4 linked regions of the Homo sapiens genome follow. The protein of the gene in region 1 interacts with the protein of each later gene in a pairwise test. Each region holds a gene or a part of one and is shown in the gene's direction. Other genes may lie near its edges. The genes, in order: NUFIP2, VWCE, FUCA2 and CEP63.

The links.
Region 2: the proteins of NUFIP2 (region 1) and VWCE interact in binary tests that used the Homo sapiens proteins (3 or more experiments, as listed by UniProt).
Region 3: the proteins of NUFIP2 (region 1) and FUCA2 interact in binary tests that used the Homo sapiens proteins (3 or more experiments, as listed by UniProt).
Region 4: the proteins of NUFIP2 (region 1) and CEP63 interact in binary tests that used the Homo sapiens proteins (3 or more experiments, as listed by UniProt).

Annotation. Positions count from the first base shown.
Region 1 is NC_000017.11:29,283,598-29,291,671, reverse strand, and holds part of NUFIP2 (FMR1-interacting protein NUFIP2), read left to right. Parts: intron 1-637; exon of another isoform or gene 638-894; intron 895-3,955; coding exon 3,956-5,680; intron 5,681-8,074. UniProt on the Homo sapiens protein: Binds RNA.
Region 2 is NC_000011.10:61,257,523-61,265,127, reverse strand, and holds the end of VWCE (von Willebrand factor C and EGF domain-containing protein precursor), read left to right. Parts: coding exon 1-6; intron 7-89; coding exon 90-172; intron 173-550; coding exon 551-641; intron 642-5,815; coding exon 5,816-6,453; 3' UTR 6,454-6,842; downstream 6,843-7,605.
Region 3 is NC_000006.12:143,508,118-143,517,133, reverse strand, and holds the start of FUCA2 (plasma alpha-L-fucosidase precursor), read left to right. Parts: upstream 1-5,413; 5' UTR 5,414-5,499; coding exon 5,500-5,723; intron 5,724-9,016. UniProt on the Homo sapiens protein: Alpha-L-fucosidase is responsible for hydrolyzing the alpha-1,6-linked fucose joined to the reducing-end N-acetylglucosamine of the carbohydrate moieties of glycoproteins.
Region 4 is NC_000003.12:134,558,630-134,566,178, forward strand, and holds the end of CEP63 (centrosomal protein of 63 kDa), read left to right. Parts: intron 1-520; coding exon 521-800; intron 801-2,747; coding exon 2,748-2,906; 3' UTR 2,907-6,402; downstream 6,403-7,549. UniProt on the Homo sapiens protein: Required for normal spindle assembly.

The DNA of each region.
Region 1 (8,074 bases):
TGTATCTCATCGGTCAGGTTAATATACTCTTGCCAGACTTCTCTCTACATGTGGAAGCAACCGCTGAACCATTCAAGGTGGTATTCCTCCAAATATTTCTTGTCTTGGAAGGGGTGGATAAAGAGGAGGAAACTGGAATTAGCAGTTTTGACAGAATGTAAACAGTTTGGGGCGAGTGTATGATTTGGTCACAGTACTGTTGCTTTGACATGCATAATGCTAATAACTAAGAAAACATTACAATATTTTTGAAATTTATCTGTAACATGTTGAGGTAGGCTTTGGTAATCCATTGCTCACAAACCTAAAGAGGAACAGTTTTTTTTAATCCAGAAGAGGGCGCAAGAGAAGGCCAAATGTGTTGAGTAATTTGTTTCTAATTGAAAAGCTAGATGTATCAGGACTCAAGTTTTGCTGAGTCTTTTGGAAGTAGGGTTAGTATAAGCAGCCCTAAATAAAGCGCTAGGAATCCTTTAATTTCTTAAATTTATTCTATAATGTTTACATTTTTCTTAAATATCTACTATTTAAAAAGAAAATTTCTTTCCAGCATACTTCATACATATCACAAGGTTGTCATGAGAAAAACTTTATGTAGTTAAACAAGATTTTCTTTTCTTTTTTTTTTTTTTTTTTGTTATTAAAACTTGCGGGCGGGAGCACAGTGGCTTCTAAGCCGTTTTTTCATTGTTTGGTGATTTCCAGTATCTGAGTCGCTACATACTAGTAATCTTAGGAAGAATTATTCTTGTTAGCTTTGGTTCAGCTCAGTTTGGAGATTGGATTTTTTGCTATTTCAGATTGCTCATCTTTAATTGAAATCTGAAAAGTTGTGACTAATGGGCCCAAGGATACAAACCTTTGTTTAACCTGTTAGCATATTAAATGATACAGGTAGGTCTTATCCAGAGTTAGGTAAGGAGATAAAGTTATATCTGTTAAAAATGATGAGAAGAGCCTTTATTTAGGAACTTTATGCTTTTCTTTCTTTCTTTCTTTCTTTCTTTTTTTTTTTTTTGAGACACAGCCTTACTCTGTGGCCCAGGCTGGAGTGCAGTGCAGTGGCATGATCTCGGCTCACTGCAACCTCTGCCTCCTGGATTCAAGCGAATCTCCTGTCTCAGCTGGGATTACAGGCATATGCTACCATGCCCAGCTGATTTTTTTTTTCTTTTTTTTAGTAGAGATAGGACTTCACCATGTTGGCCGGACTGGTCTCAAACTCCTGACCTCAAGTGATCCACCTGCCTGGGATCCTAAAGTGCTGGGATTACAGATGTGAGCCACTGTGCCTGGGATTTTTCTGAGGAAAAAAGCTTTTAGAAAACATCCTAAGCAATAATCTCTTTCTTGCTGTTTCATAGTTAAAATTGTGCCACCAAAAATTTGATTTGATTGGCTATCATAGCTTTTCCAGCAGCCAAAAAATTTTTAAAAATGTAACCCTGTGGAATCTAAGAACTCTTAAGAGTTCTAAGAAATCTAAGAGGCCGGTGTGGTGGCTCTCACCTGTAATCCCAGCACTTTGGGAGGCCCAGGCGGGCAGATCACTTGAGGTCAGGAGTTCGAAACCAGCCAGGCCAACGTGGCGGAACTGGGCATCGTGGTGCATGCCTGTAATCCCAGCTACTCTGGAGGCTGAGTCAGGAGAATCTGGGAGGCGGAGGTTGTGGTGAGCTGGGATCACATCACTGCACTTCAACCTGGGCCACAGAGCGAGAATCTGTCTCAAAAAAAGAAAAAAAATAACTGTTATAAGATGTATTCTCTCGTGGTACAAGTTTTGTGCCAGTCTGTTTTAGGAATGATTATGCCTTGAGTATGTTTTCTTGGGTTACTTTAATACAGGAGAAGAAAATGCCTTTATTTGTTCAGTTTTAGTATTTGTACTTTTTTTTCTAATGTAGAATGAGTAAGTCCTGTTGTGAATCTAATAGACTTCTCCATTAATTTATTTTGGAACAATGGTTCTCAGACTTATAAAAATGGCAGTATTCCTATTAGACTCCTCACTTCCTGCTGCCTTAAATGTGTGTGGAGTGTCCTTCTATTGTGTATCTTTCTTTTTTCTTTTTTTTGGAAGTGGAATTTTGCTCTTGTTGCCCAGGCTGGGGTGCAGTGGCCCAATGTGGGCTCACTGCAACCTCTGCCTCCCGGATTCAAGCCATTCTCCTGCCTCAGCCTCCCAAGTAGCTGGGATTACAGGCGTGCACCACCATGCCTGGCCAATTTTGTATTTTTAGTAGAGACGGGGTTTCACCATGTTGGTCAGGCTGGTCCTGAACTCCTGACCTCAAATGATCCACCCACCTTGGCCTCCCAAAGTGCTGGGATTATAGGCATTAGCCACTGCACCCGGCCTGTATATCTGTTTCTAATGACTTGACCTCAAGATGCTTTTATGAACATTTCATAAAAAGGTAGATAACTAATAGCACCATTTTGTTACAGTGGAAAACTATTTGAATCACCTATAATAGAATTGACTTTTTATGGTAGTTGAAGGTTTTTTTTTCTTTTCTTCTTGAAAGAGGGTCTCACTTTGTCACTCAAGCTAGAAGGCAGTTGTGCCATCTCAGTGCATGTTCACTGCAGCCTCGACCTCCTGGGTTCAAGCTATCCTCCTCCCTCAGCTCCCCCAGCTGGGAGTATAGGCACATGCCCCACGCCCAGCTAATTTTTGTATTTGTAGTAGAGACAGGGTTTCTCCATGTTGCCCAGGCTGGTCTTGAACTCCAGCAGTCTGCCTGCCTTGGCCCTCCCAAAGTGCTATGTTTACAGACATGATCCACTGGCAGTTGAAGACTTTTAATTAAACCTGAATACCATAACACTAAAAAATTGGATTCTTTTTATTGTTGTTTTGTTAGTAAATATTTTCTCATTGCATCTTTTGAGTCAAGGCAGTATTACATAGTGATAGGAAACCATGGATTGCAGATAGACTGGCGGTCAGATTTCCAGTTCTGTCACTTTGACTTGGGCAATTTACTTCATCTCTCTTAAAGTCTTTTTATCTAAATGTAAAATGAAGAAAGTATGTTTTATAAAGGTTGGAAACATTGGTACGTAGATATTTTGGTTTCACGTATTAACAATATCCAATATCTGGGAAATGTCAAAATGAAATTTAAGAATACTTTAGAAAAAGTTGACAAGTGTTAGATATTTGTCTGATAGATGCCTTGGAAACTGCTGATAGTGACTACCAGCTATTTATGGTTTTGTAGAAATGAAGTCTTTAATTTCCTTGTAATAATTACTGTTTCAATAAAACTTGATTTTTGCCCAGAGGGCATCTCTGCTCTGAATTGTAAAGAAAATTTTAGGCCGGGCGTGTGGCTCACGCCTGTAATCCTAGCACTTCGGGAGGCCGAGACGGGCGGATCACAAGGTCAGGAGATCGAGACCATCCTGGCTAACATGGTGAAATCCTGTCTCTACTAAAAATACAAAAAGAATTAGCCGAGCGTGGTGGTGGGCGCCTGTAGTCCCAGCTACTCTGGAGGCTGAGGCAGGAGAATGGCGTGAGCCCGGGAGGTGGAGCTTACAGTGAGCGGAGATAGCGCCACTGCACTCCAGCCTGGGCGACAGAGTGAGACTCCGTCTTGAAAAAAGAAAATTTTATAACAGCCTTGTGAGAGTGATGGGTAGATTGATTCTGTTAGATGAGAGGTATTTGGCATACTGCTTAAGAGGTCTTGTCTTCTCTGGCCTCAGACTTTGGTTTGAATCTTCGCTGAGTTCTACCTCTTGCTTTGCTTAGCAGTAGGTTGCATTTCCTAGTCTGTAAAATGGGGCTGACAGGTGTCTTCTCATAGAGATGTGAAATAATATAAAGCTACAGCTCATAGCATAGTGTCTAGCATACAGTAAATAGTTCTTAAATGTTAGGTATTAGTGTAATTTACATGTTGTGATTTTTTTTTTTAATCCTTTTTTTCCCCTCCCCTAGGCTATGGTGAACTAAACGGTAATGCTGGAGAAAGAGAAATATCTTTAAAGAACCTGAGTTCTGATGAAGCCACCAACCCTATTTCCAGGGTCCTCAATGGCAACCAGCAAGTTGTAGACACTAGCCTGAAGCAGACTGTAAAGGCCAACACCTTTGGGAAAGCAGGAATTAAAACCAAGAATTTCATTCAGAAAAACAGTATGGACAAAAAGAATGGGAAGTCTTATGAAAATAAATCTGGAGAGAATCAGTCTGTAGATAAGTCTGATACTATACCAATTCCAAATGGTGTGGTAACAAATAATTCTGGTTATATTACTAATGGTTATATGGGTAAAGGAGCAGATAATGATGGTAGTGGATCTGAGAGCGGATATACAACTCCTAAAAAAAGGAAAGCTAGGCGCAATAGTGCCAAGGGTTGTGAAAACCTTAATATAGTGCAGGACAAAATAATGCAACAAGAGACCAGTGTCCCAACCTTAAAACAGGGACTTGAAACTTTCAAGCCTGACTATAGTGAACAAAAGGGAAATCGAGTAGATGGTTCGAAGCCCATTTGGAAGTATGAAACTGGGCCTGGAGGAACAAGTCGAGGAAAACCTGCTGTGGGTGATATGCTTCGGAAAAGCTCAGATAGTAAACCTGGTGTGAGCAGCAAAAAGTTTGATGATCGGCCCAAAGGAAAGCATGCTTCAGCTGTTGCCTCCAAAGAGGACTCGTGGACCCTATTTAAACCACCCCCAGTTTTTCCAGTGGACAATAGCAGTGCTAAAATAGTTCCTAAAATAAGTTATGCAAGCAAAGTTAAGGAAAACCTCAACAAAACTATACAGAACTCTTCTGTGTCACCAACTTCATCTTCATCATCTTCATCATCTACCGGGGAAACTCAGACCCAATCATCAAGTCGCTTATCCCAGGTCCCTATGTCAGCGCTGAAATCTGTTACTTCTGCCAACTTTTCTAATGGGCCTGTTTTAGCAGGGACTGATGGAAATGTTTATCCTCCAGGGGGTCAGCCACTGCTAACTACTGCTGCTAATACTCTAACACCCATCTCTTCTGGGACAGATTCAGTTCTCCAGGACATGAGTCTAACTTCAGCAGCTGTTGAACAAATTAAGACTAGCCTTTTTATCTATCCTTCAAATATGCAAACTATGCTGTTGAGCACAGCACAAGTGGATCTGCCCTCTCAGACAGATCAGCAAAACCTGGGGGATATCTTCCAGAATCAGTGGGGTTTATCATTTATAAATGAGCCCAGTGCTGGCCCTGAGACTGTTACTGGGAAGTCATCAGAGCATAAAGTGATGGAGGTGACATTTCAAGGAGAATATCCTGCTACTTTGGTTTCACAGGGTGCTGAAATAATTCCCTCAGGAACTGAGCATCCTGTGTTTCCCAAGGCTTACGAGCTGGAGAAACGGACTAGTCCTCAAGTTCTGGGTAGCATTCTAAAATCTGGGACTACTAGTGAGAGTGGAGCCTTATCCTTGGAACCCAGTCATATAGGTGACCTGCAGAAAGCAGACACCAGTAGTCAAGGTGCTTTAGTGTTTCTCTCAAAGGACTACGAGATAGAAAGTCAAAATCCTCTGGCCTCTCCTACGAACACTTTGTTAGGCTCTGCCAAAGAACAGAGATACCAGAGAGGCCTAGAAAGGAATGATAGCTGGGGTTCTTTTGACCTGAGGGCTGCTATTGTATATCACACTAAAGGTAACTCATTTGTTTCCTATACAAAGATTTTTATTGGCCAATTTAGTATATTGTTTATATTAAGAGAATTTTAAGAGAATTAGTTGTTCATATTAAGAGTATTTTAAGAGAATGACAATGTGGATAAGCAGCTGGTGTCAAACTAATTCAGGGTCCTTGGAACTAGTATGATTAAAATTTAGAAGAAATGTTCACTTTTCCAACTTAAAAGGATTTTTAAAAATACAAACATAATTGACCTACCTGGTTCAAAGAACAGAAGTGAGGAGAACTTGCTTAAAGGTATTGATGTTATATTTTCTCTTGACTGAGTGCTTGAAAAAAAATTTTATTGAACATATGTTCTCCTTCCGTGGCTTTTTTGTCTTTGCTTTTTTGTTTTGTTTTGTGTTTTTTTTCTTTGAGATGGAGTCTCACTCTCTTGCCAGGCTGGAGTGCAGTGGCGTAATCCCGGCCCACTGCAACCTCCACCTCCCAGGTTCAAGTGATTCTCCTGCCTCAGCCTCCTGAGTAGCTGAGATTACAGGCACGCACCACCATGCCCGGCTAATTTTTGTATTTTTAGTAGAGACGGGGTTTCACCATGTTGGCCAGGATGGTCTTGACCTCTTGACCTTGTGATCCACCCACGGCCTCCCAAAGTGCTGGGATTACAGGTGTGAGCCACCACACCCATTTGCTTATTTGTTTTTGAGACAGAGTCTCACTCTCTCACCCAGGCTGGAGTGCAGTGGTGTGATCTTGGCTCACTGCAACCTCCGCCTCTTGGGTTCAGGTGATTCTCCTGCCTCAGCCTCCCGAGTAGCTGGGATTACAGCCATGCGCCACCACGCCCAGCTAATTTTTGTATTTTCAGTAGACACGGGTTTCCCCGTGTTGGCCAGGCTGATCTCAAACTTCTGACCTCGTGATCCGCCCGCCTCTGCTTCCCAAAGTGCTGTGATTACAGGTGTGAGCCACCGTGCCCAGCCTCTCCTTTGCTTTTTATATCATATGCGTCTTTAATAGTGAGCTCATTTAATAGTTCTAATTTGATTAAAATGAGTAGAAGCACTGTTTTTGAAGAGGAGACTGATAAGTCTTGGAGTAATGGATGCCAGTTTGTAACTGGAAAATAAGTTAGACAAATCACAGTGTCAAGTATGATTAGCATAGTTGAGACCAGGCTCTTGGGATTCTCCTTTTCATAGCCCTAAAGCCCAAGTTTAAAGGGAACCAGGTATCTTTCAAGTTTCACGCTAATAACTTTCTTTTCTTTTTTTTCTTTTTTTTTTTTTTTTTTTTTGAGATGGAGTCTTACTCTTGTCACCCAGGCTGGAGTGCAGTGGCGCAATCTTGACTCACTGCAACCTCCGCCTCCCGGGTTCAAGTGATTCTCCTGCCTCAGCCTCCCACGTAGCTGGGATTACAGGTGCCCACCACCACGCCTGGCTAATTTTTATATTTTTAGTAGAGATGAGGTTTCACCGTGTTGGCCAGGCTGGTCTCAAACTCCTGACCTCAGGTGATCCACCCACCTGGGTCTCCCAAAGTGCTGGGATTACAGGTGTGAGCCACCGTGCCAGGCCTCATGTTAATCACTTTCTTAGAATGTGGTTTGTTTGTGTCTTAAAGAAAAATTCGCTGTATGGCATAACTGTAATCTAAATCCTTAGAGCAAATAATGAGGTTTAACGATGATGTTTATATCCTTTTGCTTTTGAGAACAGTGGGTTTCAGTCTTCCCATCTTTCCTACCTCTTCCTCCTTTCTCTAACAGAAATGTATGCTCCATGCATGCATGTACACACTTAATACATAGTGCACATTCCCATTTTAACAGTGGCTCATTTAGGCAGTGACTTACAATTGCAGGGAAAGGGGACCATACCAGATTGTGGGAATTGGGTAATTACCATATTCTCTCTGGAAGAAATACTGCCTCAGGGATGAATAACAAAGTGATTTGTGACTTCTAAGCAAATTTCCTAGTCTGCATACGTTTCCTTATCTGCAAGCTGGAAGACATTGAGTATAATAAATAGATGTCCTTTTAATATCATTTTACTTCCTTAAAAATGGAAGTAGTAGAATTGCTTAATGGAAGTTTAGGAATCCTCACAGATAACATTTACCTGATTTCACTTATTCTCCAGCTCTGCTCTTTGAAGGTAAATACAGGAGTTGGTTGTTTTTAGCAATGTTAGGGCAAAAAGATAAATGCTTCGTTTTTTAAGACATGTGTTATACATTAGTTAACCTCTGCCAGGAGAGTTGGGTTTTTTGGTATTGTTTTCTGTGCCGTCTGCCCTCTAGAGACTATTACTGGAAAATGTTTACCGAAGTATTTTGCACTGGCGATCATTGTGTGAGCCTGAGAGGGTATCTGGTTGTGTTGTGTTCTCTTACCACCTC
Region 2 (7,605 bases), on another chromosome or scaffold:
GCCGAGGTGAGTGGGACCAGCTGCCCCACGTGCCAGGTTCCCGGCCAGGCCTCGGCTCTCATGGGCTCCTGTCTCCCCTTCCTCCACAGACTGCAACTACGAGGGAAGGAAGGTGGCGAATGGCCAGGTGTTCACCTTGGATGATGAACCCTGCACCCGGTGCACGTGCCAGGTGAGCTGGGCCTGGGAACCCAGGAGCGGCCCCGCCAGAGGGCAGCTTCTTGCCTTTTGTCCCTTTGCAAAACATGGAGCCCTTTAGCCAGCATAAATCCATCCTCCTGCCATCCTCCGCCTTTAATTAACTGCCAGAATATCTTTGGTTTTGACCATCTCCTCCCTCTGTGGAAGTCCAGAGGGAGAAGTGGTTTCCCAAAGGGGGTCCTGCCATAGCTGGCTTTACCTGTTCTCCAGGCGAGGGCTCAGGCACTGCAGCCTCTGTCCTGGGATCTTTCCGTGGGTCCTGCTGCTGGTGCAAGAGGCCCTTGAGGGCACTGCCCAGGGCAGGCAAGATGCTCTGGGCTTCCTCATGGGGTTCCTTCTGCTTCCCCAGCTGGGAGAGGTGAGCTGTGAGAAGGTTCCCTGCCAGCGGGCCTGTGCCGACCCTGCCCTGCTTCCTGGGGACTGCTGCTCTTCCTGTCCAGGTAAGTGGGTCTCTGGGTCCTGGAGTTTCTCCGCCATCTTCTTCCATTTTACTTTTCTTCCCCGGTACATAGAACTTGTAAAGGGCTGGATAAGAGAAAGCCATGTTCAGAGAGGGAACACGGCTCGCGCAAGGTTGTACAGCTGTGCTGTGGCCTGCTGACCCTCATCCCGTGCTCATGATGCCACACACCATGATGTCTGTTTATTTGCACTCCCTTTTTCTTCTTCTTCTGCTTTTTTTTTTTTTTTTTTTTTTTTTTGAGACTGAGTCTCCCTCTGTCACCCAGGCTGGAGTGCAATGGCGCTATCTCACCTCACTGCAAGCTCCGCCTCCCGGGTTCACGCCATTCTCCTGCCTCAGCCTCCGGAGTAGCTGGGACTACAGGTGCCTGCCACTACGCCTGGCTAATTTTTTTGTATTTTTAGTAGAGATGGGGTTTCACCGTGTTAGCCAGGATGGTCTCGATCTCCTCACCTCGTGATCCGCCCGCCTCAGCCTCCCAAAGTGCTGGGATTACAGGCGTGAGCCACTGCGCCCGGCCTGCACTCCCTTTTTCTTCTTTATCCCCTTTCTTAACCTCTTCCTATGCTTTCTTCTTTATTTTAAATTACAACATGGGAACTGAGTCCGTTTTGCAGAAGAGTAATCTCTAATATGTGTTGAGCACCCACGGTGTGCCGGGACACCTCATGTGTCTACACCCCTGCAATACTCTTGTCATCCTCCTGTGCCAGGTGAGAAAACAGGCCCAGGCAGGTGAAGTGCTGTGCTCAAGATCACATAGCTGATTGGTAGTAGAGCCAGGGTTTCAGACTGGAGTCGATGCTTTTAGATAGGACAGTGGATTGATTCCCAAGAACTGACGCCACTGAACTCCAGCCTGGGCCACAGAGAGACACTGTCTCTAAACAACACAAAACACAACACAACACATATTTCTCCTGTCTAGCTGAGATTGTGTACCCTTTGACAATCATCTCCCCATTCCCCTCGCCCCTGCCAGCCTTCGTAACCACGATTCTATTCTCTGCTTCTTTGGCTTCAACCTTTTTAGATTCCACATAAAACTGAGATTTTGCAATAGTTGTCTTTGTGTGTCTGGCTTATTTCGCTTAGCATAATGTCCTCCAGTTTCATCCATGTTGTTGCAAATGACAGAATTTCCTTTTTTTTTTTTTTTTGAGGATTCTCACTCTGTCACCCAGGCTGGAGTGCAGTGGCGCGATCTCAGCTCACTGCAACCTTTGCCTCCCAGGTTCAAGTGGTTCTCTTGCCTCAGCCTCCTGAGTAGCTGGGATTATAGGCGCACACCACCATGCCCGGCTAATTTTTGTATTTTTAGTAGAGACAAGGTTTCGCCATGTTCGTCAGGCTGTTCTCGAACTTCTGACCTCAAGTGATCCACCCACCTCGGCCTCCCAAGGCACTGGGATTACAGGCGTGAGCCTGTAATTTCCTTCTTTTAAAAGGCTAAATAGTATTCCATTCTGGATAAAGAAATGTGGTATATGCACACAATGAAGTACTATTGATGGATGCTTAGGTTGGTTCCATAGCTTGGCTATTGTGAATAGTGTCACAGTGAACACAGGACTGCAGCTCTCTTCCCCAAACTGACTTTAAATCTTTTGGATAAATACTCAGCAGTGGGATTGCTGGATCTATTTTATGTTTTTTAAACTTCTAGGAAGACAGGGAATTTTTTTCACTGATGGTGGCCTGAATTCCCTTTTTTATAAAATATTTGTTTAACTCCTTTGACCTTTTGAAGAGTATGTTCTGTTTTCGGGGGCAGCTCTTCAGATCTGTGGATGATGAGCTTTTAGGGCGGGTGGCGCCAGGAATATCCATTGAGCCTTCAAATCCATCATGTTGGGGACATTATAGATTGTACTTCATTGTAACCACCACAAACCTCTCTGCATGCTAGTGGATATTAGTCCCCTGACTGTCTAGAGACTGATTGCTAGCTAATGTGCCAGGCAGCATACTGAGCATTTTATACCTTATTTAAATGTATTACCTCATTTAAATGTTCATGGAGTGTTCCAGCGTGGCTGCTATGTTATCTCCATTTTGCAGGTGGGGAAATGGAGGCTCAAAGAAGTTAAGTTTCTAGTTGGTGTGTAAGACTTAAGCCTAGGTCTCTCTTATTTCCTATCCTGTCCTCTTTCCCACCGTGCCCTCCTACCTCCACCTGGGGAAACTGAGACCCAAAGAGGTGACCTCCAGGTCTGGCGTGGTGGCTCACGCCTGTAATCCCAGCACTTTGGGAGGCTGATGTGGGTGGATCGCCTGAGGCCAGGAGTTTGAGACCAGCCTGTCCAACATGGTGAAACCCTGTCTCTACTAAAAATAGAAAAATTAGCCGGGCATGTTGGTGCACACCTGTAATCTCAGCTATTTGGGAGGCTGAGGCAGGAGAATTGCTTGAACCTGGGAGATGGAGGTTGCAGTGAGCTGAGACTGCGCCCTGCCCTCCAGCCTGGGCAACAGAGCAAGACTCTGTCTCAAACAAAAACAAAAACCAAGAGGTAACCTCCAGAGCCCAGCTCCTTCTCCTGAAGCACACTATGTTTACCACCTACCTCTTATTAACAAGAGCTCCCTTTAAGGAAAAACAACTTTTTATTGAAGTAGAATATGAATTGCTTTCTTTTGATGATTTTTTTTTTTTTTTGAGACAGGGTCTCACTCTGTTGCCCAGGCTGGAGTGCAGTGGTGCGATCACAGCTCACTGCAGCCTCGACCCCTGGGCTCAAGCAATCCTCCTACTTCAGTCTCACAGGTAGCTGGGACTACAGGTGCATGCCACCCTGCCTGGCTAATTTTTTGTTTCTATTTTTGTTTTATTTCCAAGCCCATGAAGTGATAAACACTTGGTTAATTTTTTTACTTTTTTTTTTTTAGAGACAAGGTCTTGCTATGTTGCCCAGGCTGGTCCCAACTCCTGGACTCAAGCAATCGTCCCGCCTTGGCCTCCCAAACTGTTGAGATTACAGGCATGAGCCACTGAGCCCAGCCTCTTTTGATGATTTTTTTAAAAGTATAACAGCTTTCTAAAGATAAAGTTCATATGTCATACAATTCACACATTTAAAGTGTATGATTCAGTCATTTTAAGCATATTTTTAGAGTTACGCAACCATCTATTAATATGAATAGTTGATTTTTAAAATATAATCATTCCAGTTTTTTATGTGCTTGACAACGTCTGATTTTTCCTTGATCATACCTTCGATACTCTTTCTTCTTTTTTTTTTTTGAGATGGAGTCTCTCTCTGTTGTCCAGGCTGGAGTGCAGTGGCATGATCTTGGCTCACTGCAACCTCCACCTCCCGGTTTCCAGCAACTCTCCTGCCTCAGCCTACCAAGTGGCTGGACTACAGGCACCACCATACCTTGCTAATTTTTGTATTTTTAGTAGAGATGGAGTTTCACCATGTTGGCCAGGATGGTCTCAAGCTCCTGACCTCAAGTGATCTGTCCACCATGGCCTCCCAAAATGCTGGGATTATGGGCATGAGCCACTGCGCCTGGGCCGATACTTTTTCTTTTTTTGCTTCTTCACTCTTCATTTTCTTTTTGCTGAGCTTCTTCCTTCTTTCACAGATGATTCCTGACTTTCTGGTGGTTTATCTTAATGATTTTTTGACTTTACAATGATGTGAAACCATCAAAATTTTGCTGTATTTTGTATTTTGAATTTTGATCTTTTCCTGGGTTATCAATATGTGACACATGGATATTCAGCACTTTATTAAAAAATAGGGATTTACTTAGATGATTTTGCCCAACTGTGGGCCAGTATAAGGGTTCTGAACACGTGTAAGGTCAGCCAGGGTAAGCTGTGGTGTTCAGGAAGTGAGCTGTATTAAATGCATTTTTGCTGGGCACCGTGGATCACACTTATAACCCCGGCACTTTGGGAGGCTAAGGCAGGAGGATCACTTGAGCTCAGGAGTTTGAGACCAGCCTGGGTAACAAAGTAGGATCCTGTCTCTACAAAAATAAAATAGAACAGAACAGAACAGAACAGAACAGAATGCCAGGTGTGGTAGCATGTGACTGTGGCCCCAGCAAGTAGGACAGCCGAGATGGGAGGATCGCTTGAGCCCAGGAGGTTGAGGGTACAGTGAGCCATGTTTGCACCACTGCACTCCAGCCTGGACAAGTGAGTGAGAACCTGTCCCCCCCACCCCAAAAAAAAGCCTTTTTTTAAATTTTGGTGAAACGGAGTCCTGCTCTGTCTCCCAGGCTGGAGTGCAGTGGCACGATCTCAGCTCACTGCAACCTCTGCCACCTGGGTTCAAGTGATTCTCGCGCCTCAGCCTCCCGAGTAGCTGGGACTACAGGCACGCGCCACCACGTCCGGTTAAGTTTTGTATTTTTAGTAGAGATGGGGTTTCACCATGTTGACCAGGCTGGTTTTGAACTCCTGACCTCAGGTGATCCGCCGCCTCGGCTTCTCAAAGTGTTGGGATTACAGGCGTGAGCCACTGCGCTTGGTCAGAAATGCATTTTTGATTTACAGGTTTATTGGGACGTGACCCCATCGTAAGTCAAGGAGCATCTGTGTTTATTTTCTCCTTGTGTACTGAGCCTTTATGATATGCCAGGCCCTAGGCTGAGACTTTTTAAAAAATTCTTCAAAGAAACTATTTTTTAGAGCAGTTTGATGATCATGGCAAAATTGAGTGGAAAGTACAGAGAGTTCCCATATGCCTCAGACTCCACATGATACAGCGTTGCCCCCTATTAGCACCCCATACCAGCGTGGCATGTTTGTTATAATCGGTGATCCTACACTGACACTGACATGTCATTGACATCCAATGTCTATAGTTCACATTGAGGTTTAGGCTGAGACTCTCCGTGCACCCTTTCATTCACACTCAGTCCTTACTGCTGTGCCCATTTTACAGATGAGGAAACAGAGGCCCAGGAGAGTTGCATGCCTTGCGTGAGGTCACACAGCTAACTGCCTGCCTCCCTCCGTTCATGGCTCCTTCAGTCTTCCCTTCCTGGAGGCAGGAGCTGGCTGGTCCTCACCAGGTGTGCTGAGGCCCCTCTGAGGACAGAGCTTGGGTGTCCCTGGTATACCTTGTCCCAGAGCCACCTTGGCCACTGGAGAGAGCCATTGTGCATCTCGTTTCACCCTCGTCTCTCTAGATTCCCTGTCTCCTCTGGAAGAAAAGCAGGGGCTCTCCCCTCACGGAAATGTGGCATTCAGCAAAGCTGGTCGGAGCCTGCATGGAGACACTGAGGCCCCTGTCAACTGTAGCTCCTGTCCTGGGCCCCCGACAGCATCACCCTCGAGGCCGGTGCTTCATCTCCTCCAGCTCCTTTTAAGAACGAACTTGATGAAAACACAGACTTTACCTACAAGCCCGGCAGGAGCTCATGGTCCACACTCACTCGCTTTGGGGCTGACAGCCACTTTCCCAGGGGAGCCTGGGGCCTCCCCTCGACTCTCACCAGGGCCTTCGACCCCTCCAGGAGCCCCCACTCTACCTCTAGCTTCCCCAGGGGCTCCTCAGCCACCTCCTGTGACTCCAGAGCGCTCGTTCTCAGCCTCTGGGGCCCAGATAGTGTCCAGGTGGCCTCCTCTGCCTGGCACCCTCCTGACGGAAGCTTCAGCACTTTCCATGATGGACCCCAGCCCCTCGAAGACCCCCATCACCCTCCTCGGGCCTCGCGTGCTTTCTCCCACCACCTCTAGACTCTCCACAGCCCTTGCAGCCACCACCCACCCTGGCCCCCAGCAGCCCCCAGTGGGGGCTTCTCGGGGGGAAGAGTCCACCATGTAAGGAGGTCACTGTGTCCGGGAGACTCTGGAGAGAGGACCTCTGCCAGTGGCCCAGGGTGTGTGCAGGGCAGCTCCAAGGATGAACCTGGTGGGGATGCCTGGGCTCCCTCCTGCAGGGGCCCTGGTGAGGATGGAAGACCCCCAAGGCTGGATGTAACCTTGTTCCCAAGAAGTGTTTGGAATGTGCTGTAAGAATGGAGGAAGTCGTTTCCACTGTCAGCATCCTCCCTGGACCGCGTGGCTGGCTCATCTTTTGAGAAGGGTTGGGACTGCCAAGTTCTCCTGGAGGAAGAGTTGCGTCCGGCTGGGATTCCACTCACTGGGACTGTACCGCCAGGTGTCATGCGTCTCTCTGAGGTTTCCTGATTAAAGGTTGTCTCGGTTTCCCCATGCTGCACTGCTCATTCACCGCTTACCTGTGGGAAGGTGGGAAACGTGACCCCAAGCCCACAGGTGGTAAGTGAGCATCCACCTTTACCCCACTGCTGGGGAGAAAAGCTGGCACCAAATTGTGACTGGGCTGGGGAAGGGTCTCCTGTAAGCACTTGGCGGCCTTTTATATTGGGAGACTTCTTTTTATTTTTTTCCCCAAGATCATGATTTTCTTTTCTGTTTTCTTTTTTCTTTTTTTCACTTTTATTTTAAGTTCAGGGGTACATGTGCAGGTTTATTATATAGTTAAACTCGTGTCACAGGGGTTTGTCATACAGATTATATTATTTCATCACCCAGGGATTAAGCTTAGTACCCATTAGTTATTTTTCCTAAGTCTCTCCCTCTACCCTCCCTCCACCCTTCCATAGACCCCAGTGTGTGCTTTTCGTGTCTATGTGTCCATGTGTTCTCATCATTTAGCTCCCACTTACAAATGAGAACATGCGGTATTTGGTTTTCTCTTCCTGCGTAACTTTGCTAAGGATGATGGCCTCCAGCTCCATTCATGTTCCTGCAAAGGACATTATCTCATTCTTTTTTATGGCTGCATAGTATGTACACCATGGAATACCATACAGACACTGGGGGGCTTCCACAGTGAGAAGGGAAAAGATGATGGAGAGGACTTGCTTCTGGGAAGGAACCTCTGAGACGAAATGACAGACCAGCAGTTTCTTTTTTGAGATGGAGTTTCGCTCTTGTTGCCCAGGCTAGAGTG
Region 3 (9,016 bases), on another chromosome or scaffold:
ATGTCCTTTCTCTCTCTCTCTTTTTCCCTCCCTCCCTTCCTCTTTCTTTCTTTTTCTTCCTTCCTTCCTTTCTTCCTCTCTCTCTTCTCCCTTCCTTCCCTCCCTCCCTTCTTTCCTTTCTCTTTCTTTCTTTCCTTTCTTTCTTTTTTCTTTCCTTCTTTCCTTCTCCTTCCTTCCTTCCTTCCTTCCTTCTCTCTCTCTCTCTCTCTTTCTTTTCCTTCCTTCTTTTCTTTTCTTTCTTTTTTTCTTTCATCTCCTTTCTCCCTCTTGCCCAGCCCTATCTCAGTTCTGTCAGTTCCTTCTTTCTTTTTTTGCTTCCTCTTCCTCTTGAGGACCTGACCTCTTCCCTCCCACTTCTAACCAGGGCTGTGAAAACTCCGCCTTCTCTTCCAACTGGTGCAGCCCAGGGGACACTGTCTCCCTCAGCCATAAGGGCCACTGGAAAGGAGACTCAATGTGTGACTGAGACCTCATCTCCCTGAATTAGGCCTCCGTGCACAGCCACTCATTAGATCATTCATTTTTCCCGGAAGACATTGGGAAGGACGGAAGTAGAAGGCAAATGTGTCATGTGTTCTGATGCTTAGCTGCATACTAGGATCATTAAATTACCTGCCACTGACAACCCTGGTGCAGAGAAAAAGTGGCAATTTGTTCTTGTTTCTAGTCACCCTACTTGCCTCAGCAGACAGCATGCTCCTGTCCCCCATGCACACACTGGGTGGTTGGTGATCAAATTTAATTATTCTACCTGCATTAAACATAGTCAAATCTTGTCAATTAAACAGCATCTTCAGCAAATATGTAGGCTGTTCTTTGGGTAACAACGCTCAATATTGCAGATGCCTCCCCCTCCCCTGCTTCTCTCTAAGGTGGCATGGAGTAGGGGCGGGGTTCTCCAGCTTCTGGGAAGGAACACGCCGTCCCTGCCTTCTCTGGTCCTGGAGTGCTGACACCCGTTCTTTCACTGTTCCCAGATGAAGCCTGAAGCTGCTCTAATTCAAGATCTGGTCTGTATCGGGCTCCTGCCCCCACCACTCAGTTTCCACAGACAGGCAAGAGTCCTCTGAGGAATGGCTGTGAACCCCAGGTCCTTGGCACAGGAGGCCCTGCCACAGAGAACCACTCAGGACAGATTTCCAGTTAGGTTCTTGGCTACTTCTGGGTCCTGTTTGTGTCACTCGAATATCAAGGTCACCCCAGGAAAGGTAAAAAGCAGCCTCTCCATCTGTCTAACATGGCTGTACCTTGCTACACTTGCCAGTTAGCCTGAGTCCTAATCAGGACATTTCTGTCCTGATTCTCATTTAGGACTTCAGGTTAAATGGGAATCAGGACAAAATCTCTGCTTTCTGTAGGCTCCCCTGAATTGATCTAACACACACATGGTAATACTGGTCCACACGTAGACGAGGCTTAACATGTACTTCTCATGATTTAATTCTCACAACACCCCTAGGAGGGAGATGCACGATTATCACTCACATTTAATAGGTGAAGAAACTGAGGCACAGAGGTTGAACGCCTTCCCCAGGATTACACAGCCCTATGGCAGAGGCTGGCGTGGGGCCACAGCCTGGCAGCTCTCCCCTCTCTGCTGACACCCCGGGGCCTCCTCCCTTTATTCCTCTCTGCTTCTCTTCCCTGCCCCCTGGCCTGAAAAAGGCGGGTTTTCTTTTATTTCCCCCATGCCTGCTCTTCTACCGTGAAGCTGGGATATTTACCAAATAAAGACTGGTTTGGGTTCAGTTCCTTTTGAACCTTTTCTTCTGCATGTCCAGAGAGAGACTGCATTGATGCCAGCTGCCAGGCAAATGTTTCACTTCTTCCACTGTCCACTTCAGAAGAATTCTGGGGACTGCCAAGACTGGCTGGTGGCAGTCATCCAACTCCCATATGGAGATCTATCCAGAATGTGTCCTCGAGAGCCTCGCTCAGATATCAGCTCCACCTCGGCAGCTAATCTTATCCCTGTGGACACACATGGCAAGACTGCTTCCTCTGGCAGCAGCAAGGAATTTGGCTAGGGCTGGCCTCTCACCATCTCCCGCCTGGGCACCCTGAGTATCAGCAGCTGCCCAACATGCGGCTGCTGGCCGTGATGGTTCCAGAAGGGAGGCACGCCCTTCTGTCTTCATCTTGTACCCCAAGTAACCTCAGACAAACAGGATCAGAGTTGACAGTGTTCCCCATCAAGGCCACAAGCCCTTCAAATGCCTTATACATGAGCCATGTGTACCTGCAGAACCCAGGGTTTCACTCAGATTTCTGGATCCCCTATCAAAACCTTTAAATACACAGTTTAAGCCTTATGAGGTGTGATTCTATTGCTCAGTTAGCAGTAGCTTTAAGTGCAAAGACTAGCTTTGTAAGGCATTACAAACGTATAAAATGTGAATGGAATCTACAGCAGGCAGGTCTTTCCCTAAAGGACCATGTTCTAAACGACTTCATAGATTTATTTCTTTCAGTCATTTAACAAATATTTTTAAGTAGAATCTCTTCTTCCTCTTCACTTTCAGATAATACTATTTACTATTCCTTTCAAATCCTATAGCAATGGTTCCCAACCTGGTATATTAGGATTCTTATGTGTCCTGAAGGGCACTAAGGGAGGTCTTTAATATATTTTCAGTATTTCTTACAGAAAATAGACTTTTATGATAAGGTTGTACTTACCAGTTAAAAACATTTCTTTGCCTTCAAGTGAAATGACAAATGACCCAAGTGGCATCCATACAGATCTGATTACCACTCTTTAACTGAAATATATGGAAGTGTAAATAATTCATAACATGATAAAAGGGCTTTGGAAGATGGGCGTTTCTGCTATGTGGTGTTCACATGGGGAAAGGATGCCCACTTATGAGAGGACAGGGTCCTGCTGCCGCTGCATTGTCACCACAGTCATGTCTACTCTCCCTATGGCAGTTCACAGTATCATTGTCACTGTGAATATTGTCTTTTGCACTTATTACACAAACTTCTGATTAGAGAGGATGTCAAGGCATAGTGGCTGAGAAGCCCATATTTTTGTTCAAGTGTGCCCCAGGGTTCAGTGGCCACTGAGGCCCTAGATCATTCTGGGTTCCACAAACTCAATAATAAATATTTGTCAGCCCAGGCACCGTGGCTCATGCCTGTAATCCCAGCACTTTGAGAGGCTGAGGCAGGAGGATGACTTGAGATCAGGGGTTCAAAACCAGCCTTGCCAACATGGTGAAAATACAAAAGTTAGCTGGAGGTTGGGGTCTGTAATCCCAGCTACTCGGGAGGCTGAGACACGATAATTGCTTGAATCCCCGGGGGTGGAGGTGGCAGTGAGTCAACACTGTGCCACTGCACTCCAGCCTGGGCAACAGAACCAGACTCTGTCTCAAATAAAAAAAAATTGTCATCTTTATCACAAACTGGAGCTATTGCAATTGGATTCGTTGAGCCCTTTCCTCTAGAACACCCTCACTGTAAAAAAACAAAACAAAATTGGGGACTCTTACGGTGGAGCTGTGGCCCCGGGGGGCCATCTGGCATGTCATGGAGAGGAAAAATGCCCCTACACCTGCAGTGACAGCGCCCTCTGCTGCTCCCATCTCTCTGCAGAGATGGGTTGGGATAATGCAGGCAACAGCCACTTAGTGTCAAGTTCTTCACTCAATAATTAGAACCCCAGTTCACTGGAGAGCTTCAACAAACATTTTGAGTGCTGCTTTTCTGCTGTAATTGTAGGCACTACAGAAAAGAAGGTCATTATGAATGCCCTCAAAAAGCTCACAGTCTGATGGGAAATCAGACCTGTACCACCTAGCTACTAGAGGATGCGTGAAATCCTATGTGTGCTTGGAAGGAGGTGTTATGAAGCAGATCAGGGAAAGTACAACATTCTGGGAGGGAAGGGTGGTGGCAGAAAGCTTCACAAAAGAAGCAGCATTTGAATTGGCTCATTGAAGGGTAATGATTTCATGGGGGCAGAAGCAGTTGAGGATTCTGGCTTTACTTTGAAAACACTTACGAGGTGGAGGAGAGGCTGGGCTTGGTGGCTCATGCCTGTAATTCTAGCACTTTGGGAGGCCAAGGCGGGCAGATCACCTGAGGTCAAGAGTTTGAGACCAGCTTGTCCAACATGGTGAAACCCTGTCTCTACTAAAAAAGAAAAGAAAAATACAAAAATTAGTCTGGCACAGTGGCATGTGCCTGTAGTCCCAGCTACTCTGGAGGCTGAGGCAGGAGAATCCTTGAACCCGGGAGGCAGAGGCTGCAGTGAGCCTAGATCATGTTACTGCACTCAAGCCTGGGCGAGAGAGCGAGACTCTGTCTCAAAAACAAACAAACAAACAAACAAACAAACAAACAAACAAACCAAACAAGAGGTGGAGGTGATAAGCTTCCCAAATATCCTTTTGATTAATCTTTCCAAGTTGCTGGCCTTTTTTCCCAAGCTTGCAGGTTTCTTAAACATTCATTCCACTGGTTTCACCTGTCTCAGATCATCTCCTTGTTCAATGCAGTGGTTCTCAGGAAAGTTTGGACCACCAATCAGAAACATCACAATTTTGTTTTCTTTCTTTTTTTTTTTTTTTTTGAGATGGAGTCTCACTCTGTAGCCCAGGCTGGAGTGCAGTGGCACCGTCTCTGCTCACTGTAACTGCCTCCCGGGTTCAAGCGATTCTCCTGCCTCAGCCTCCCGAGTAACTGGGACTACAGGCGTCCGCCACCACGTCCCGCTAATTTTTTGTATTTTTAGTAGGGACGGGGTTTCACCGTGTTAGTCAGGATGGTCTCGATCTTCTGACCTTGTGATCCGCCCGCCTCGGCCTCCCAAAGTGTTGGGATTACAGGAGTGAGCCACCGCGCCCGGCCCAACATCAGAACATCCTAGAAGTAGGAACTGGGTAGAAACGCAAATTCTTGGGCCCCAACCTAACTGCTGAATCTGAAGCTCTTGGAATTTCATCTGATACAAATTCAAGGTTGACAACCACGGTTCTAACATGCAGGATCTTGGGAGCTGATACAGAGGCCGAGAAGGATCTAGGTTGCTTTCCATGTTCCATCATGGCGAGACCCGGCTGAAGTTCCTGCCTTGACCTTCTCGTGCACGCTTCGGACGTGTGGAGCAGCCACCAGGGTGGGCTGGGGGCATTGTCTTCTTGGGCAGTTTCTTGGTCAGGGTCGTGTCTGCTTGAGGGCAGAGGCGCTGGCCACAAGGCCCTGACTCAGACTCATATTTTCCCCTCAAGAGGACAGAGCCTTAGCAAAGCCGTCCCAGCTGGCTTTGGGGTAATGCTGGCCTTAGTTATGCTGAGCGATGCAGCCCTCCTGAGGTCATTCGGAACGCCCGGGAGAGTGGCCACTCCCGCCCCAGAGGGGGAAGGGTGGCCGGTTTCCAAGTCCGACTTGGTCAGGTGACCGCGGCGCGGCATACTCAGCGGCAGAGACGGAAGAACAGCGCTCCCGAGGCCGCGGGAGCCTGCAGAGAGGACAGCCGGCCTGCGCCGGGACATGCGGCCCCAGGAGCTCCCCAGGCTCGCGTTCCCGTTGCTGCTGTTGCTGTTGCTGCTGCTGCCGCCGCCGCCGTGCCCTGCCCACAGCGCCACGCGCTTCGACCCCACCTGGGAGTCCCTGGACGCCCGCCAGCTGCCCGCGTGGTTTGACCAGGCCAAGTTCGGCATCTTCATCCACTGGGGAGTGTTTTCCGTGCCCAGCTTCGGTAGCGAGTGGTTCTGGTGAGTGCGCTCCCTTTTGTCTCGTCTGCCGCGCTTTTGTCCCCACCCGCAGCCTCCAGCCACCACCCAGCGGGCCTGGTTCGCCGCCTGGTGCTGCCTGCACCCTCGTCGGTTTCACCTCCCACTGCGTTACCCGCGTTTCGCACTTCCGGGTGTCGAATATGTGGTTTCCTGCCTAAGTGCTTCTGCTGGATGAACAGGGAATTTTTCTTCCGTGTGACTGTAAGAGTTTTCAGATACTCCTGACTCCTCAGCTTCTTCATAGTTGCGCATATTAAGCTGTAGTTATGACACTACAACATCGAGCTACTACAGACATTCATCAGTTTGTGCAGGGGCATCACACGAGCGGTGACTCAGGCACAATGGCCTATGGTTGCTCTGCTGCTACCTGCCAATTTACAGTCGTTCTGCCATGAAGTTATGGTTAAAACATAGTCATGAGTATGTGAAACGACTGTTCATTGAACACCATTGGCTACTTAATGTTAACATGTTACCCATGTGTGGCTCTAGGAACTTTTTAAAGAGGTTCTAGAATGGTACTCTTAACACAACCCAGTTATCATACTGCCGTATGAAAGGTGCTACACAAAAATCTGTGCGTTAGATTTTACCTTGAGATCTATGTGAAAATGTGCATGTAATTTCTTAAACTGTTGCACATGTCTTTTCTGACTAAATGCTACAAGTATTAAGTCCTTCAAAACAGAAATATTTTGTGTGCATATATAGAAACATACACATAATATATTCTTTTTTTTTTTTTTTTGAGACATAGTCTCATTCTGTCACCCAGGCTGGAGTGCAGTGGCACCATCTCGGCTCACTGCAACCTTCGCCGCCCGGGTTCAAACGATTCTCGCGCCTTAGCCTCCTGAGTAGCTGGGACTACAGGCGCACGCCACCATGCCTGGCCAATTTTTTTGTATTTTTTAGTAGAAACGGGGTTTTGCCATGTTAGCCAGGCTGGTCTTGAACTCCTGACCTCAGGTGATCCGCGGTGGCTCATACCTGTAATTCCAGGACTTTGGGACACATAATATATTCTTAAGTAAAAGAACGGAATCATTAAACAGTATTTATTTGAATCAACTATATACTACATAAATAGTATACATCCAAATTAACATACTATATTTAGTAGACACAATACAGAGTATGAACTATATATTATATTAACATTACATAGTATACATGGTACCATGCTCTACTCTAGGGGTAGAAAAATTACACCTCCATTCTGTTAGGGTCTCTGCTGGGTCCAAGAATTAAATTGACATTGTGTGACTAAATTATGTGGGGAGACTTAAATAATAAATTTTAGCAAGTTCTGTACAGTATTCTACTTCTTGTCTTTGAAGCTTAGGATGTTGCCTTTCCTTCTAGTACAGAGTGCCTTTCATACTGGAATTTCATCTTCTCTCCTAAGAAACAGCACAAAGGGCAAAGTGCTCTTCATGCACCTGCTATTTTTCGAGTTTCTTTACCTTTAAAAATGTGCCAAAATAGCATATTTTAACCCTTTCATGACAAAGAAATTGACTACCTGCAACCAGTAACCTTTCTTATTGGTAGGTCAATTGATGTAAAAAATAAAACTGGATAAGCTATGGAGAATTATTCATATTTTAAATAATTCACCTTCTAAAACAGAGACTCTTTATTCTTATGCCAAAACATAGCTACTTCAAAAAGATGTTACAAATCTTTATTTGCATGTTTTGGGCTGTAAGGAATCTTGAGCTTGTTTTGGAAATATTTTAGATTAGTGTGGTACATAATTAACAACTTTCTTCCCCCTAAATTGTATCTTATATTATCATTTTGTTCAACCATGAAGATTAGGTAAAGATATATTGGTGCCAAAGAGGATTTGACATTTTTGACTGAGACTAGTACTATGCCAAAATAAAACAGCTAGTTTTGAGTCATTTTATTCTTTGCTATGAATAACTTCATTTTCTACAGATAAACCCATGGTTATTTTGACCTAGAATAATAAAGATACTTCTCATACTAAACAAAATAGAGAACAGATTCCTGATGATCTGAAAATGCATTAACCCTGTGGAAGATTCTTTAATTACCTGTGATTTCCCTTTGTATCCTCTGCTCCTCACTCTCAATTTGACTTTCGGGGAATCAACAGTATAGATGAGTATATGTGACTGTTTTAAATGTCTATTAAAAACCAAATATAAATGATAGACCTTTACCATAAATGCCTCTTTTCATCTCTCAGCATGAAATTCAAGTCTAGACTGTAGGGGACAGTGCAGGTTCAAATTAGATGATGCTAGGAGAAATTCCTTATTCTTGTTCAACTTTCTGAATGTCCCAGTTTCTCTTTTGCAGTTCAATTTAAAATGTAATGCCCGTAGTCCCAGATACTCAGGAGGGTGAGGTGGGACGATCGCTTGAGCCCAGGAGTTCAAGGCTGTGGTGTGGTATGATCATGACACTGCACTCCAAACTGGGTAATGGAGCAAGACCCTGTCTCAACCAATCAATTAATCAATAATAAATAAATAAATAATAAAAATGCTTCAAGGATTTTAAACCCAACTAAAAGGTATAATGATAGGGGCTTGTTATCTCACATAACAGGAAATTTAGAGTAGTCGGTTCATTGATGAAATCAAAGACACGGGCTCTTTCTTTCATCCTCAGCCTGGGGACTTGTCCCTTCATGGTCACAGGATGGCAGCCAGGCACCATAACTTCACACAACCCTGCCCAAAGGCAGGAAGGCCAGTGTCTCTTTTCATTAGGAGGGAAACCATTTCCACAGTCCCCAAAGTTGGCTTTCCCTCAAGTTCCCTTGGCCAGCATGGATCTCACATCCCTGTCGCAGCTGTAGTGGAAGCTGGGAAATTACGTAAATACGACTTTTGGGCAGGCAAACAGCATGCCTGCCGCATAGTATGCCCTTCAATTATTTCTTCTTAGCAGAGTCTCCTGATCGTCTTGGGAAATATAGTGCTGATTATGGATTTGCTTATCCTGTAGAAATACTCATATGAAAGGAATGGTGATAGAAAAAGCAGGAGGTGGGTCAAAAATGGGGGTTGCATCTATTTCATGAGGATAGTTACTGCTGTGTTTATCTAAAATGTGTAGATGTGCTTTTCCTCATGAAGTCTTGCTTACGCAGTTTAGGGTCAATATACCATTGCTTAGAATGAATGCGTATAGCAAGTAATTGTTGAAGGTTGAGTCCATTTATTAAAATAACAGCATCTTTTTAATTTTACTTTTGCCTCCCTTTCTGTCCTGTGCCTCCAAAGTGT
Region 4 (7,549 bases), on another chromosome or scaffold:
CCCATTTGCCCATAAGAAGTAGAATTTGGCTTTTTATAAACAGCTTCCTTTGTCTTTTTAGTCAATTTGTTATAGGCTGTTACCGTAAGAAATAAGCATTCGGTGAAAAGCCACTTGGCTTCAGCTCATACTATATGGCTTACATGTTTTCCTACCCAAAGCCTTTGCTGACACCCTCACCTCCACTCCTACACCCACCCAATCCCCTAGTTAGGTTAGGTGCCTTCTTATGTGCACAGCACTTCTCCTGTCCCAGCACTAACCACACTAGATTACTCTGGCAGCTTGTTTGTCTTTCTTGCTATACCATAAGTGTGTGAGGGCAGGGACTTGGTAGTTGGAATTGGATATTTGGGGCCTGAATGAATGAAAGAAATCTCTTTCTGATCTGAGTAGGTTGCTCATTTTGTAAATTGTAGCCTTATTAGTTAGGCTATTAAGCAAATTTCCTACATTTCTGTTGGAAAGAGAAAAGTTGCTACAATTTTTTATTTGTTTTGTTTTCTAATCTACCATCCAGGCCAACCCATGGCCAGCACAGACATGATGGAATAAAGACTGAGCACTACAAAACAGATCTTCATTCTCCAAGAGGACAAGCGTCGGATAGTATAAACCCCATGTCTAGGGTGCTAAGCCCCCTGAGTCCTCAAATCAGCCCTTGCAGCTCCACCAGGTCTTTGACTTCCTACTCTCTATGTAAAACTCATTCTTTGCCTTCAGCGCTAGATACAAATGAAGCCAATTTTTCTGACACTATGTCTGAGAGTATGAATGACCAAGAAGAGTTTATATCTTCGGTATGGAAACTTTCTGATCTTAGTAATTTGTTAGTTTTTTAAGTTTGCTTTGATTTTTTATTTTAAGGGTGAAGAAGGTGATTTTTTTTTCCTTACTGATTCTTTTATCATAAGTACTCTTCATTATTCTTAGGTATCCCTGTCATACAGTTTTTGCTTGTGAAGACACTTTCGGCCAAGACTACTTTTCAAAATGTTCTGAAATATGTTATACGTATTCATTTGTCTTTAACCCTTATTGGAAATTCCCTTCTTGCCCTTTTCAGTGATGCTCAATTTTCTTCTGGAATGGTTAGTTCAAGAACTGTCTCTGGATGCCAAGATAGTCCTGAGGCACAGGCAGTGAAGGAGGAAAAGAGGAACTGCTGGAAAGGAGAAAGGGAGTGTGGAGGGGGAGGAAGGCTGTGCCTCTGATGTGTGCAGAGCATGGCTTGGGGGTCACAGATGGTGGCCCTCAGGGCAGAATGTGCCTTGGACACCATGCCGGTCCCTTGCTCCTTCCATTGCTGGGCAGGCTGCACCATCTTTTTGCCTTCTGCACCAAAGCACTTGCCATGGGCCCTTCATTTCCTGTCACCAGCTGTGGCCATATAGATGTGAAAGTGCAGTATTTCTGACTTATTAATGTGCTACCAAGTCCATGGAAAGGTTTTCTTTTATTTTTCAAAATAAGTCCTCACTTCACTTTCTTCCTAAGTTTAGCAGCAAAATTTTTTTGGCACCAGAACTTTCCCTGGCCTGAACTGATGTGTTAGTATGTATAGACTTTCTCTATTCCACTTAGTGTGAGTATCCATGTGTTTTGCTTCAGAAATATCAGTGTGTTTGGTGATGGGATGTTCCCTCAGACTCCACTGGGGTAATACAGTTGATCCTCATTATTCACAGATTTTGTATTTGTGAATTTGTCTACTCCCTAAACTTTATCTGTAACTCCCAAATCAGTATGCGCAGCACTTCCACAGTAATTCGTGGACATATGCAGAGTGACAAAAAATTTGAGTGACCGACTTGCACAATCCCAGCCAAGGTCGAAGTAGGCAGCACTCTGCCTTGTTGCCCCTGCTTATGCGGAGGTGACCATAGGGTGGAGATGGACGGGACAGCGCAGTGTAGGGAAAGAAGCTCAGCTCCATGCCAGCTGGATAGAGTCTGAATCCCAGCTTCAGCACCAGTTAGTGGGGCAGCCTCAGGAGAGTTACCACTTCTGAACCTCATGTCTCTCATGTGAAATAAAAAATACAGAATCTACCAGAATGATTTGTTCTAGGATTTAGGATTATGCTCTCTGTGTGGGGTATGTGTGTATGTGTGTGTGTGTGTATTTGTTGTATGTGTGTATTTTCCCTGGGCCAAAAATTCTGTGTTTGCTAATTCAGTGTTTTGGGTGACTTTATAGAACACAACTACTGCTATTGTGAATGAGTATTGACTGCATATGGCATATGTTCTATGTTACCTTTCTAAAATCAGAATTCTGAAATATCACTAGCCTCAAGGGTTTCAGATAAGGGACTGTGGACTGAAAATTTGGAGGAGAAAAAATAATTGATTTTAGCTGGCATCTAATTTATTTTTGTTAAATTTTTGTGCTTTAAAATAAAAGTGACATACTTAGGTTTTTAAAGTGAGTTTGAAATAATAGGCATTAACTATGGAAGCATATATAAGTCTAAATTGAAACATTCTTCAGACCAATAACTAATATATGATACTTTACATTGTTACAATTTGGGTCAGAAACGGAGAGATCTGTGTTAATTTTTGCAGAACTTACTGATTTTTGTTCTTTTATTGCTCTTGTCATTAGGATGAAAACCAAAAAAGTATCTTCAGAGGAAAAAAATCACCTTTTAATATTGCTAGTTAGAAAATGTCATGAACAGTGTATCTTAGAAATATAATATTCTACTTATTTACACATGTCAAAATTTGTGTCTCTTCCAGTGTTCCTTGCCTGTATCTCCCCTTGGTTCAATAGCTACCAGATTTTTGGAAGAGGAGGAACTGAGGTCTCATCACATTCTAGAGCGCTTGGATGCCCATATTGAAGAACTAAAAAGAGAGAGTGAAAAGACAGTGAGACAATTCACAGCCTTAAAGTAGCCTCTTAAAAAAATCACTATCTTGGAAATAAAAATAAACACCAAAGAGTTACTGTCATCTGAAGTAGCAGCTCTTTAAAAACATGAAGAGATAAAATTATAAAAATGATACATCTAAAGCAGTGGTGAAGAAAGCTGAAAAACTGATACTTTTGATAGGCATTTTCTCTGCACTGGTTTGTTTAAAGGACTTCTTCCAGCAATAAGTTGAAAGAATAAACCACTTTGCTAGACTTTTTTCTCATACGAATATTTATTATCATAAAGTGATACTTACCTTGCTGACTTAAATGTGAATAGCTATGTACTAATTGAAATAAGGATTTTATGATACATGTTGAAAATAAAGTAACTGCAGGAACTTTCTTTAGGGGAAATGTGTAGAAGCATGGATTTAGGGGTCAAACATACCTGGATCGATAGACTGGTTTTGCCACTTACCAGCCAACGGGGCTTGTTATTTACTGGGCTGGTAGCCCCTCCTAGCCAAGGGGCTGGTAGTGTGTAAAGTCAGGCTGGTAGTGAATAAGGGGGGGGTGTGCTAAAGAACCTTATCAAGCAGTCCTCTCTTGCTCAACACTCATGCAGAGGAGAGAGGCAGGGAGGGCAAGGGACTGGCTGTCATGCACGGTGCCCATGGAATATCCATTGGAAATAAATGTTCATCGTCTGCACTGCTGAGGACAAGTTTAGATGGGAGACAAAGATCTGGATGTTGATGTGCCGCAGGCATTTGAAACGATGGGAGTTGATAAGATCCACCAGGGAGGCTGTGGAGAGAGAGAGGAGCAGGAGGCTGGGTTTGGGGCCCTGAAAGATGCCAGCATCTGAGGATCACAGGAAATAGATCTAGCAAAGGAACTAGAATGTGCAGTTACAGATGAGAAAGGTCAGTGTAGTGTACTTGCCAGCTCAAGGGTGTGGCCTCTGTGAACCCTCTTTCTGTAGTGGATCTTTCCCATCAGCGTAAAACATCCTGTTATTTCCCCTTTTTAAATAAAACCTCAGTTTTTTTTAATGCCTCTCTTTTACTGCTCTGTATGTTTGCTTCCCTTCACCCAAACACTTCTGGAAAGAGTTGTCTGCAGTGACTCTTTCCAGTTCCTCACCCCGCCCCACCGTAGTTCTCTTCCTAACCCTCTCCAACACCACTTCCATCCCCAGACTGCTTTCTTGCTCTTGAGTTCACCAGTGACCTAATCAGTGTCTGAGCATCATTCAGCACAGTTGGACTCTCTCTTGGCTTCTGTGACCTGGAACTTCTGGTTTCCTCTCTACCTCATCCTCCACTCCATCTCATGGCTTTTCCTCTTCTAACCTCTAAGTCAGAGGGCCCCCTAGAGCTCTGTCATGGGTTTTCTCCCTCAGCATTCTCTTCCCTAGAAGTTTCCATTCCATTCTCAAGCTCTTAATACCACCTATAGGCCAGTGACCCTTACATTTATTACTAATCTTGACCTCTCCCCAGAGCTGCTGTCTTAGATACCTAGCTGCTTATGCGATGTCTTCACTTGGATATCTGACAAACATCTTGTTTCCAAGAGAGAACTCTTTATTCTCCCTCTTGCTAAGATTCCATATCAGGACATAGCATTATGTTTGCCAGTTCCTAGGAGTTACTTATAATTCCTTCCTTACCCACATCCGCATATCCAGTCATTTGGGAGGTCCTGTCATTTCTTCCCCCAGAATCTTATCTCAGACCCAACCGTTTCCCTCCTGCACTTCTACCACCTGATCCAGACTACTTCTCTCTCACCCTGATTCTGGCAGTAGCCTCCTAACTGATAGTACTCACACCAGTAATTCAGGGAGCTTCTGGAGTTATCCTTTAGAAATGTAAATGAAACAGTGTCACCACTGCTTCCCTTCAGACTCTTCCAAGGCTTCTCTTTTTTTTTTTATTGAGACAGAGTCTCACTCTGTCGCCCAAGCTGCAGTACAGTGGCAGGATCTCGGCTCTCTGCAACCTCCACCTCCCGGGCTCAAGTGATTCTCCTGCCTTAGCTTCCCGAGTAGCTGGGATTACAGGCGCATGCCACCAGGCCCAGCTAATTTTTGTATTTTTAGTAGGAACAGGGTTTCACCATGTTGGTCAGGCTGATCTCGAACTCCTGACCTCAAGTGATCCACCCGCCTGAGCTTCCCAAAGTGCTGGGTTATAAGCGTGAGCCACTGCACCCAGCCCCAAGGCTTCTTACTGCACTCAGAATAAAATCCAAATGAATTAGTATAGCCTACAGAGTGTCAATAATCTGGGCCTAATCACCCATTGCATCATCCTTTACTGTGCTCCACCCATGCTGGCGTCCTTTCTGTTTATTGAGTGCAGCAAGCTTTAACCTGTTCGGGTCTTTCATTTGCAGTTTACCCTGAATATTCCCTTTCTCTTACCTCACCTTTGATTGGCGTTTTCCCCCTTGCAGACCTGCACTCTGGCATCCTCTCCTGAGCAAGCCTTCTTTGATTGCTGCCTCCCAAACCTGTTTCTCCCCATTTCTCTAGCTCATTGGCCTGTGTTACTTGCTTCATAGTGCTCACTACTATCTGAAATCATTTCATTACTTGATTTATGTTTGTACTGTCTATTTCTGTCTTTAGAATTAAAACTCCTTGAGGGCAAGGACTTTGCTTCTCTGGTTCATGGTGGGATCCTCATCACCCAGCACAAGCCCAACACTTAGGAGAGGCTCAGCTAGTTTGAACCAATGGAAAATGCCATTCCTGAGGTGCACCACATCGTTTCTTTTGTGTTGGTGTGCATGCTGTCCTTCAGTTTGTCTCCTCTTCCCACACCCTGTCATGTGCTCCTAAAACTCCCCCTTTACTTGGCTACTTTATCTGGCTTGGCAAAGCTTTCCCATATCCCCTGACCCATGTCAGGGAACGTTTCTCCTCATTGCTGTCATGGCACCCTGTGTGTGGCTCTGACCAGACTTTGCTATCCGCTTTGATTTCTGTCTTTCAGGGGCTAAGTCCTGCCTACATCCTCAGTCAGCATGCTGCCTAACACATAACAGATCCTAAGCAAATATTGGGTGGATGAAAATCACTACCATTCAAGGCTTCATTGTATTTATCAGTAAAACTGAAATAATATCTAATGGGGTCGAGAAGATTTACTGAAAATATATATTTGAAAGGGCTTTGCAGTTTTAAGTACTGTACCTATGTGCATTGCTGTTACATTCAGGAGATTTCTGAGTTTTAGACAGTCCCAAGCTTCAGCTTAAAATCTGTAGACTGCAGCCCGTTTCTGAAACGTTTGTACTACGTGTTGACTAGGAGGAACAATGACAGACTCTGTAGTCACCGGAAATACTTAAGGAATCATGAGGTACTATGTATTTCCTTAAATTATACTGTTTTTTAAAGCTGAAGTATCTAATAGTTAATGGGTTGTCCAAATTTGTCAGAACATTTGACTGTAATTTAATGTCTCACCATTTTTCAAAAAGATATATTAATACCAAATATTAAAATGTGTCAAGACTAAATCTGAGTTAGTGTCTTAACACACATTTTCCAAAATCTGTCCGTGATCAGGGTACCCAAATGAGATGAAAAGATTAGGGATTTGTAGTCTACATCTGGTGTTTACAGATAATGTTTTATTGGGCAAGTCATCTCATTCTTCTTGTCCTGGATTCCCATGAATTTTCATCTGGATTCCTACGCAGATTTTAGCTGAAGAGGGCAAAGTTGACTTCCCACTGTGGGCTGGACATTACCTTCCCTTGCAGACTCATTTGATCTCAACAAGTGTAGAAAAAATACTACAACACTCTGTTTCTGTGACATCTGCTTAAACCCAAACAATTCTTACCTTCTCTCTCTTACATACACATAACACCTGGTAAACTGTGGGTGATGATTTTCTGTTTGCAAAACACTCGAGTCCAGTACCTAAAAGTTGCAGATAAGAAAGATAATTATAAAATAAGCTCTATGGCATGAGAACATACGTTAAGCAAACAGTTGTCATGAACAGCACTGAAATGTAGAAAAAGTTAGAAATGTGTCAGCTTGTCCCAAAACAGTTTGAAATAGTATAAATGCATCAAAAAGTAACAAACAGAATCGGGGCAGAGGGAAAATGAGGGCTGTAAACATTGATTCACTAATGAATCTAGTTGTCCAGTCCAGTTGCTAGAGGAAGGCAGCCAAGTTACCTCTGAGCTTCAGAGGGGGAAAAGCAGAGGAGAAAACATTTACCTAAAAGTTTTATGGTGCCCATAAGATAAAAAAAAAAAAAAATCATAGACTTAAGAAAAGCACAGATTTTTTTTGTGTGTTTGAATAAGCGTTTTGTAAAGTATGTGAGTATCCAGAAGAGAAGTCCAACATTTTCATAACTGGTAATAATAATCTGCACAGCTCCCCCCACAGTATGCTTCACTGTGGGTTGATGGCATAAGGCTGACATCCAAATTCAGAGGAAACTGTTCTGAGAGGGCCACAAACATGATTGCGTAAAGCTCTCATGGCCTGAAAAGGGAAAATTTAGAGGGATGATAGACTGCTTTAAACCAATCTTTTGTAAAAGCTATTTCTCCGCAGTGCAATTTTGATAATTCAGACATACAATTCACATCTTTTTTTTTTTCCCTCTCTGTGAGGAACTAGAATTTGGGAATTTTATGT